Homo sapiens: one gene and its partners. The protein of the gene in region 3 purifies or fractionates together with the protein of the main gene of each other region. This does not show direct contact. Each region holds a gene or a part of one and is shown on either strand. Other genes may lie near its edges. The genes, in order: PRUNE1, AKT3 and PIANP.

Region 1 (3,657 bases), on a different chromosome or scaffold from region 3:
ACCCCTTGGATAATGTAGTGTGTGCAGTTCTCAGGCATGAGGCAGGAATCAGGAGCTGGCTCTCCTTAGAAATTTGCAGTCCTGGCATCAGTATTGTTCCTGTTTTCTCTGCTGAGAGGGTTTGTCTCTCTCTGGCTTTCTGTCTCGTTTATTTTTCTCCCCCATTAACTATTCTGAAGAGTAGTTATCATACCATATTCAGCTTTAGAAGGGAAGTGGTTTACTTTGCCAGGCCTAGAATCCCCTCCCTGCCCCCTCCTCTTGAGGCCACAAAGAACATATCAGGATAAGAGAGTCATTTCAACTAGTGGGTGTTTATTCATTTATTTATTTTAATTAATTAATTTTTTTTTTTTTTGAGACAAAGTCTCGCTCTGTCACCAGGCTGGAGTACAGTTGCATGATCTCGGCTCACTGCAACCTCCGCCTGCCAGGTTCAAGTGATTTTCCTGCCTCAGCCTCCCGAGTAGCTGGGACTACAGGCATGTGCCACCATGCCCAGCTAATTTTTGTATTTTTAGTAGAAACGGGGTTTCACCATGTTGGCCAGGATGGTCTCAATCTCTTGACCTCGTGGTCGGCCCACCTCGGCCTCCCAAAGTGCTGGGATTACAGGCGTGAGCCACCGTGCCTGGCCAACTAGTGGGTCTTTAAAAAAAAGAAAAAAGAAAAAAAGTTTGTATTTATTTACTTGTGGCCCTCAGATTGTATTTTTTCCATTGGCAGCTTAGATTTCCTCATGCTGCTAAGTATAGCTGTATTTTCCCTGAACTCTTTCTCTGATGGTCAGAAAACTGAGGCTGTTTGGCTTGTGCTTTCAGCTGGTGGAGGATGGGCTTGGAATTAGGGGTTACACATGTTTTTCTTAAATAAAGAAGAGAATGATGTCTTATAAGTTGGGCAGCCCCACACACGGTTTGCCCAGGGCAGTCTTGGTTTTCCCCTGTGTAATCATTAATAGCACCCCTTTTCATTCTCATAAGCGTCCCAGTTTGAACAATCAAATATATAGTCACCCACCACATAAGCCATGTTAAGGATCAGGGATACATGACCATGAAAAGACAGGGAGCTCCTTAAGATAGAAGTTAAGGTCTGTCTCAGAGCCACAAGTGCTAGAAGCTGGAGGTTTAGAGGAAGAGGATTTCTCTGGGCTGGGTGTTCAGGAAGGCTTCACAGAGAAAGACATTAGGTAGACTTGAACAACGGGGAGAAGTAAAGAAAGAAGATGGGAGATCACATCTTTACTATTTACAGCGTAGGCACTTATGGTACTATCTCATTTAATCCTCCTAACAACATCATGAAATTGGTTACGATATTATTCTCATTTTTTTTGTTTGTTTTTTTGAGATGGAGTCTCACACTGTCACCCAGGCTGGAGTGCAATGGTGGGATCTCGGCTCACTGCAACCTCCGCCTCCCGGGTTCAAGCAATTCTCCCTGCCTCAGCCTCTGGAGTAGCTGAGATTACAGGCACCTGCCACCACACCCGGCTAATTTTTGTGCTTTTTAGTTTCACCATGCTTGCCAGGCTGGTCTCGAACCCCTGACCTGAGGTGATTCGCCCACCTTGGCCTCCCAAAGTGCTGGGATCATAGGTGTGAGCCACCGCGCTCGGCCTATTCTCATTTTTATATGAGGAAAATGAGGCTTAGAGGGTCCAAAGTCCTGCAACAAGTAAGAAGCAGAGCTGGAATTCAACCCCAAAGTCTGTGATCTTTTCAAATAGTAGTTCTGCATTCAAACAGAGAACAAATAGTGCAAAGGGCAGAGCTGGGAATGTGCACATCATGGTTTGCGGGTGGTGAATAGTCCAGTCAGGCCGGGGTGACAGTGGGTGTTGACAGGGGAGAGGAATGCTGCTGCCTCCCTTGGTCACTCCAGTTCCAAGATTTGCTACAAGTCCCAAAGTATTCCTTTTGTATTCATTCCTTTTGGTTACTGTCTAGGTTTGGCTGAGCGCAAGGGGTTCATTGTTCACCTTCCTCTGTAGATGGTTTCTCCTGACTTCAGAACCATACCACTGTATTTGGTCCCTACTTTGTGCTTTTCTGCTTAGCATTCTCTTCATGGTAAGGATCTAACTGAACCTGATTCAGCTGCTGCTTGCAGTGAAGCAACACTGATGTAAATAAGCGTGGAAAGGTTCTCCAGCATCTCTTTGGACCCTGCAGTAGGTCTCTCCTGCTTGCTCTGCCTTTTCTCCACTGCTCTTATGTTTTTCCTCCAGTCAGGGCCATATGCCTCATGTTTATATAGTTTCCTCTCTAGAGAACACTCGCTCCCCCTAACTGCTTCAGTGAGCAAGTTATTTCTGCAGCCTCTTATCTCAAGTGCTTTGCTGTCACTTTGGTCCACAGCCATTTGGGCAGTTCTTGGTCTCCAGGAAACAGAGGTCTCTGGTATCAGGAGGAGGAATTACAAGTCAGAGGAGTTACTATAGGACTGGGGTATTGGGTAGAATTCTTACTGCTTTGGAAAAAAGTAAAGAATCCCCCTACCCCAGTGCTGTTCAGTATGAATGGGCCTTTGCTTCCACACTTTTTTTTTTTTTTGAGACAGAGTCTCGCTCGGTCACCCAGGCTGGAGTGCAGTGGCACGATCTTGGCTCACTGCAACCTCCGCCTCCCGGGTGCAAAAGATTCTCCTGCCTCAGCCTCCCGAGTAGCTGGGACTACAGGCACCCGCCACCACGCCTGGCTAATTTTTTGTATTTTTAGTAGAGACGGGGTTTCACCAGGTTAGCCAGGATAGTCTCGATCTCCTGACCTTGTAATCTGTCCGCCTCGGCCTCCCAAAGTGCTGGGATTACAGGCGTAAGCCACCGCGCCCGGCCTGCTTCCAAACTCTTGAAGTAGACTTAGAGAAATAGGCATGGGGAGGACCTCAGGGCAAACTTCTTTAGGGGCCCTTTGGGCAGAACCCGGACAGATAACCTCTGTCTTCTGTATTTCTCTCCAGGGATGGGAGTAGGAGATGGCGACGAGGGTGGTTTAAAAACAAAAACCTATCTCGTAACTGGATGGGGCAATTGATACCACCAGAAGTCTTCTAAAATTGCCCTTTTTGAGCTGTGGCTTTCCAGTGGGGGAAGAGAAGAGTGATAGCCTGTATAGGGAAGATGATTCTAGGTTTCCCTAGATTCCCTTTTTTTCTTAAAGTTACATTAGTTGATAACTATTCTTTGCTATGTGTTACTCCTCTGAACCTTCCCACTTTGCTAAACTCTTGAGTCTAGCAAATCTTCCCTGATTGAAGAAGTCAGACTATATGGATTTTCACCTTCTTGTAACCCAGTAGTTCTCAACTGGGGGCAGTTTTGCCCCCCAGGGAACATTCAGCAAGTCTGGAGACATTTTTGTTTGTCACGACTTAGGGTGCTACTGGCATCCATGTGGGTAGAGGCTAGGGATCCTGCCAAATATCCTATAATGCACAGGACAGCCTCCACAAAAAAAGAATTATCCGGCTGGGCATGGTGGCTCATGCCTGTAATCCAAGCATTTTGGGAGGCCGAGGCAGCTGTATCACTTGAGCCCAGGAGTTCGAGATCAGCATGGGCAACATGGTAAAACCCCATCTCTACAAAAAATGCAAAAATTTGGCTGGGCGTGGTGGCTCACGCCTGTAATCCCAACACTTGGGGAAGCTGAG
Region 2 (3,657 bases), on a different chromosome or scaffold from region 3:
GCCTGCTGCCCTGTAAGATGTGCCTCTGCTCCTCCTTCACCTTCTGCCATGATTGTGAGGCCTCCCCAGCCATGTGGAACTGTAAGTCCAATAAACCCCTTTTTCTTTATAAATTATGCGGTCTCAGGTATTTCTTCATAGCAGAATGAAAATGGACTAATAATAGGTAAAGAAATTTCAGTGTTTTCTGGCTTATTCAGTTTAATATAGTATATATTACTAAGCATAAAAGAACTAAAAGTGAGAAATAGGAAGAACAGGAGGAAAAGAGGGGAAAAGAACAAGGAAAGGAAGATAAAATAAACCTATTTAAATCTGAATTTTATATAGTAGGCTTTATTTGGACTTGTTCATTATTAGAAATGATATGTGCTGGTAAGTGCTTAACAACCAGCTCTCTGTGAGCAATCATGCATTTATACAAATATAATTTTTTTTCTTTTTTTTTTCAAAGGCACAGTAGATACCAGATGCTCAGAGCAGAGCAGCCATGGAGCTGCTGGGACCAAACCTTGCCTGACCTAGCCACCACCACACCCCAGACATATAAATTTAAATTTTACTGATATAAAGAATGCAAAACACAAAATTTACAAAGATCATAAAACATACAATGTTGTGTATTGTAAATTAGTCACCTGATTCTCACAGAAAACTTGTTAATTTCTGCTGTACGCCAAAGCCACTAATGGATGAAACTTACGATTAGTTCCAACATGAATATTGGTTGACATTTTTGTTTATGTTAAAGTCAAAGCTGAAAGTGATACAATGGAGACTTCAGAACTTCACTTGTCAGTTATGTGAGTGATTTCTTTGCTAAATGTTTAGTAACTTTGGGATGGTGGAAGAAGATTCATTTTTTGGTGCTATTTACAATGTAATGAATCTGCATTATTAATATTTTCTCTTAAGTCTAAACAGTCAACAAAACAGTAAGTGCAGCCCCAACTCATAGTATTTGCCAATTCTGGCGGTATAAATTCTTCCACTGTGGCCAGTTTCGAGCTACCAATAAGATGTCACTGAACATGTAGGCAGGAAGAGATGCATAGTAGCAAACCATTATATATTATGTCCAAACAGATACAGCAGACATAACTAATCTCAAAAATACAGATAACAGTGAAACATAACAAATTAAGGAGTAATGACTTTTTAGTATTTATGACCTTTGATTTTCCTATTATTAGTAAATTTATATAATTTTTAGTAATGACTATAATATACAACCAGCTCATAAAATTGGTGAAAATTTAACAGTTGGTTCTTGAGAGCTGGTATATGCTAACTCCAAAACACCACTGGGTTGGAAGAAAACCAAATACGTCATAGAAAACAAATACAGATGCTCCTAAACTTAATGATGGGTTATGTCTAGATAAGCCCACATTTCAACTTAAGATGGTTTTATCTGGATGCAATTCCATCATTAGTTGAGGAGCATACTAAATACGCATCAGTTTCGCACCATCATAAAGTCAAAAAATTGTCAAGCCATCGTAGGTCAGAAATCATTTATAATTATATAATTCTAATGAATTCTGGTTATTAGATCTAAGAAACACATGACTGGGAAGGACCTAGTATCCTTTGACACACAATTAAAATGGAAAACAGTCAACTGATACCTGAATATCTTTAGTGATGATAAATAATTCCCACCAGCTGGGTCTCCAACTCCCAGATCCTTATAGAATTCTCTAAATGAACTATACCCCAGAGATGGCACTTTTAGGTTTGATCATAATAGTGCTGTTCGATGTTTGCATTTGGAATTTTCAGACTGGTAGTTCTGTGTTCAGTGAGAGCTCAGCATTTCAGACCCTGCCCTCTTTTTCATTCTATTTCAGTTGTGTAGGTTTCTTTCCCAGGAGACTGCAAACTCCTTTGAAGGCAAGATCAGTGCTGGATTATCCAAAAGGCATTCTAAGCTTGTGCTTGGGGAACCAGAGAAGCAAAAGCACCAAAACACGTTTCTGAAAAGCATTTAATATTTTCAAGCATGCGTCAACATAGTCTGCATGAGAAACATCAAAGCTCCATGGCATTTTCTTACACTTATGTTGTAGTTTATTTCAATACTGTTTTCATTTGAATTGTACTTGAGATGGGAGTTGGAGTGGAGAATCATAATCATTTTGTAAATAAAATGTTTTAATCCAGCTTTAGTTATCCATTTTTGTAACTCCTCAAGTTTTCTAGCAATACTTTGGTTTTGAACATAGCCAGCATTTATTCTATATTTATCAAATACATATAAAACTAAAATATCAGCTATGAATACTATGCAAAGTCTGAGAATACAATCAGACTTCCATTTTAGAAGCTAGGAGAAATTCTTTAACACACTTCTTCAATGTGTGAAACTGTCAAAAATTTCAGTGTCAATGACTCTCTAATATACAATTTAAGACTTCAAAAATAATAACAAAATATGCTTTGAAGTAAGATATTTATGTCTAGAATACTAAACTCCAGTATCAGAATGCCAGACTAAATCCTCAGCTACTACAAATTCCTTTACTATTAGGAACATCACAGAATTCACATTTTCCTAATGTTACTGAATACATGAGGTCATGCTTTTCCTATCAACTCCGCATAGGAAGATAAAGGAGGGGCTAACAGAATGAACAGAAAGGATGGAGACTAAGAAATAAAAGCAAAATGATAGTTGACCCTTGGATAGAACTAACAGCAATTCAATAAGAAATACCAGAAAAATTCCAGTAGTATTTAAAATAGCTGCGTAGAAAAAATGAAGAGGTGTATTATAATGCTATCATTACTTATGTTTCCAAAGGCTTTTCAAGGTCCTTGTTAGCTTTCTTTTCTTTCTCCCCCTGAAACTGAGGTTCCCTAAGATTCTGTCCTAGGCCCTCTTCTCCTTATCCACTACCCTTGCCACTACTGCCTTGGCTCTAGCTACCTCCTAGATATAGTTATGGTTCCCAATCCATGTAGTCAGTTACTGTGTTTCTTTTAAGCATTCATTCTATTATTTCCAGCTGCTCACTTGACATTTCCATCTTGGTTTTATATAGAAACTTCAGACTCAGTGTACCCAAAGTTATTATCAACATCTAGCCCCATCAAGCCTCCTTGGTTTGCATACCCTGTCTGTTAATCACCCTAGCTGGAAACCTCAGAGGGATTCCTAACTCCTCCTACTTCCTCATAGTTTCTAGTTAATCATAACCTCTATCACTTGTGTACTACTGCTTCAGGAAGGAATCCATCTATTATCTGAACAATTCCATAAATATTCTTTTTAAAAAAAAGACAGGGACTCACTCTATTGCCCAGGCTGGAGTGCAATGGTGTCACCTTGGGTCACTGCAGTCTCGACCTCCTGGGCTCCAGCGATTCTCCCACCTCAGCCTCCCAAGTAGCTGGGACTACAGCATGTGCCACCATACCCAGCATTTTATTTTTTTTTAGTAGAGATGAATCTTGCTATGTGCCCAGGTTGGTCTTGAACTCCCGACCTCAAGTGACCTTCTTGCCTCGGCCTCCCAAAGTGCGGGGATTACAGGTGTGAGCCACTGTGCCTGGCCCCATAAACACTTTTAACTGCTCTGCCTGCCCCTGGATCCTCACTCATCTAATCTGTCCATGACAAAGCTGCCAGAGTTACCTTTTCATGACACAAAT
Region 3 (2,419 bases):
ATCCAGAGCCTTCCCATCCTGAGGGCCATCCTCCTTTGGAAGATGGGAAATGAGGCGAGTCTTCCCAAGGCCCACCTGCTTTCACAGGGAAACCTGGAGGTTTCTGGTGTGAACCTGTCCCTCCCTCACATAGGCCCACAGTAGGCCTGTGTCTCAGCCACGCTCTCTCCCTTCTTGCAGGCCTGCGCTGCTGCTGTCCCACCTCCTCCCTCTCTGGCCACTGCTGTTGCTGCCCCTCCCACCGCCTGCTCAGGGCTCTTCATCCTCCCCTCGAACCCCACCAGCCCCAGCCCGCCCCCCGTGTGCCAGGGGAGGCCCCTCGGCCCCACGTCATGTGTGCGTGTGGGAGCGAGCACCTCCACCAAGCCGATCTCCTCGGGTCCCAAGATCACGTCGGCAAGTCCTGCCTGGCACTGCACCCCCAGCCACCCCATCAGGCTTTGAGGAGGGGCCGCCCTCATCCCAATACCCCTGGGCTATCGTGTGGGGTCCCACCGTGTCTCGAGAGGATGGAGGGGACCCCAACTCTGCCAATCCCGGATTTCTGGACTATGGTTTTGCAGCCCCTCATGGGCTCGCAACCCCACACCCCAACTCAGACTCCATGCGAGGTGATGGAGATGGGCTTATCCTTGGAGAGGCACCTGCCACCCTGCGGCCATTCCTGTTCGGGGGCCGTGGGGAAGGTGAGTGGGAAAGGCTGGGAGGGATATGACGGATGGGGAGGCTGGGTGAAGACACCAAGGGGCAGAAATAGAGGCCTTGTCTGTTAGCTCCTTCAACAAATGTGTCAGGCACTATACTGGCACAGGATGCAGAGATAAAGACACCCTCTCGGAGTTCAGGTCCACTGGAGCAGACAGACATGAAAGGACTTGGAGAGGAGTCATCGTAATAAATGCTTTAATAGAGGCATGTGCAGCATGATTTACAAAAAAAGAGAAGTGAGAGTCTCCTCCTGCTTGGGGATCAGGACACCTTCAGAGAACTGACATTTGAGCTGGCCCTTGAAAAGAGAGTGGGAGTATTCTGGGCAGAGAATGCCATGAATGAAGGGCACTACCCGGGAGATGTCTTGGCTCAGGGAGTGCTGATGGAGGAACAGGGCCTGTGGTTTGGGAGTTGGGCCATGGCAGAGACTAGGACATCTCCACCCCTTAGTTTCCAGGCATAGTGATAGGTTCTCGCTGATCATGGGGCCTCATCCTCATCACATATACACATAAGATTTGGTGAAATACATTTGGGAAAGTGGAGGAAAAGAGCTGAAAACTCAGGGGAATGCTGGTGATAATAAAGAGTGAGGCTCCAGAGGGGCAGACAGAGCCGGCAGTGTGGATCCACACAGCAATGCCACTCCAGCCGACAGAGCCCACAGCCCAGCCCCCAGCCCCTCTTGGCTCCTACCACCTCGGGGCTCCCTAAAACTTTCTTCCCACCCCAATCAGGTGTGGACCCCCAGCTCTATGTCACAATTACCATCTCCATCATCATTGTTCTCGTGGCCACTGGCATCATCTTCAAGTTCTGGTAAGCTGGGAGGAGGAAGGTGCTGGTGGATGGGGACGGAATGTTTGGCAGTCGAGGCTCTAACCACGAGGGGCAGTGGCAGCAATTTTGCTGGGGGGTGGGTGGGAAATGCTGGATGAAGGCAAGACCTTGGGAAAAGATAATTAAGGATTTGGCTGGGGGAAGACGGTGAGAAATCAGGGCAGATTCTGTCTCCCAGGGAAATACAAGGATAAGGGAGGGCAGGGGAATTATTCCTGTGCATTCCTGGTGAGCCTCCCCTGCCCCTACTTCCTCCAAGACAGAGAAAGCTGACCCAGTCTGCAGAGCCCTTCTTAGGGTTGCCTGGGGGGAGCAAGAAAACCTGGAGCTTTCTTTGCACACATTTAATAATGGATCACTCAGTCCTTCACACTTTACTGAGAGAATCATTAGACTCAGGTGTCCAAGTCATCAGCTTGCTTTGAACTAGAACTAAACCTGCCAGTTGTCTGCTGAAGACAGAAATGACTCTTCTGGGCATGTAGGGGAGAGGACATTGTGGTGGTGGGGAGGGGATATTAATTTTGTCGATCTGGATCAGGTTTGGAGGGTAAGGAGGTTTAGATTACCAAGCTCCCCTAGAGGGCAGGGGAAGTGGCTTTATGGGCACAGAGTCCCAGGGGATTTAGTAGAGAGAACTGTTAAAGGCCAGTTTCTCTGCTATAAGATGTTGGGAGTGACTGGGCGAGGCTGGGGGTGACCACTGGTGCAGGCCCAGGATGGGGGCTACTTGAGTGTGCAAGAGAACCTCTTTTCCTCTGGTACCCCAGCTGGGACCGCAGCCAGAAGCGACGCAGACCCTCAGGGCAGCAAGGTGCCCTGAGGCAGGAGGAGAGCCAGCAGCCACTGACAGACCTGTCCCCGGCTG

Evidence for each region.
Region 1: the proteins of PIANP (region 3) and PRUNE1 purify together in Homo sapiens (affinity purification with mass spectrometry; 2 studies listed by BioGRID and IntAct, with this or other methods). This does not show direct contact.
Region 2: the proteins of PIANP (region 3) and AKT3 purify together in Homo sapiens (affinity purification with mass spectrometry; 2 studies listed by BioGRID and IntAct, with this or other methods). This does not show direct contact.

The regions. Positions count from the first base shown.
Region 1 is NC_000001.11:151,011,440-151,015,096, forward strand, and holds part of PRUNE1 (exopolyphosphatase PRUNE1), read left to right. Parts: intron 1-3,657. UniProt on the Homo sapiens protein: Phosphodiesterase (PDE) that has higher activity toward cAMP than cGMP, as substrate. Plays a role in cell proliferation, migration and differentiation, and acts as a negative regulator of NME1. Plays a role in the regulation of neurogenesis.
Region 2 is NC_000001.11:243,546,165-243,549,821, forward strand, and holds part of AKT3 (RAC-gamma serine/threonine-protein kinase), read right to left. Parts: intron 1-3,657. UniProt on the Homo sapiens protein: AKT3 is one of 3 closely related serine/threonine-protein kinases (AKT1, AKT2 and AKT3) called the AKT kinase, and which regulate many processes including metabolism, proliferation, cell survival, growth and angiogenesis.
Region 3 is NC_000012.12:6,695,554-6,697,972, reverse strand, and holds part of PIANP (PILR alpha-associated neural protein isoform b precursor), read left to right. Parts: intron 1-180; coding exon 181-686; intron 687-1,448; coding exon 1,449-1,530; intron 1,531-2,321; coding exon 2,322-2,419. UniProt on the Homo sapiens protein: Acts as a ligand for PILRA in neural tissues, where it may be involved in immune regulation.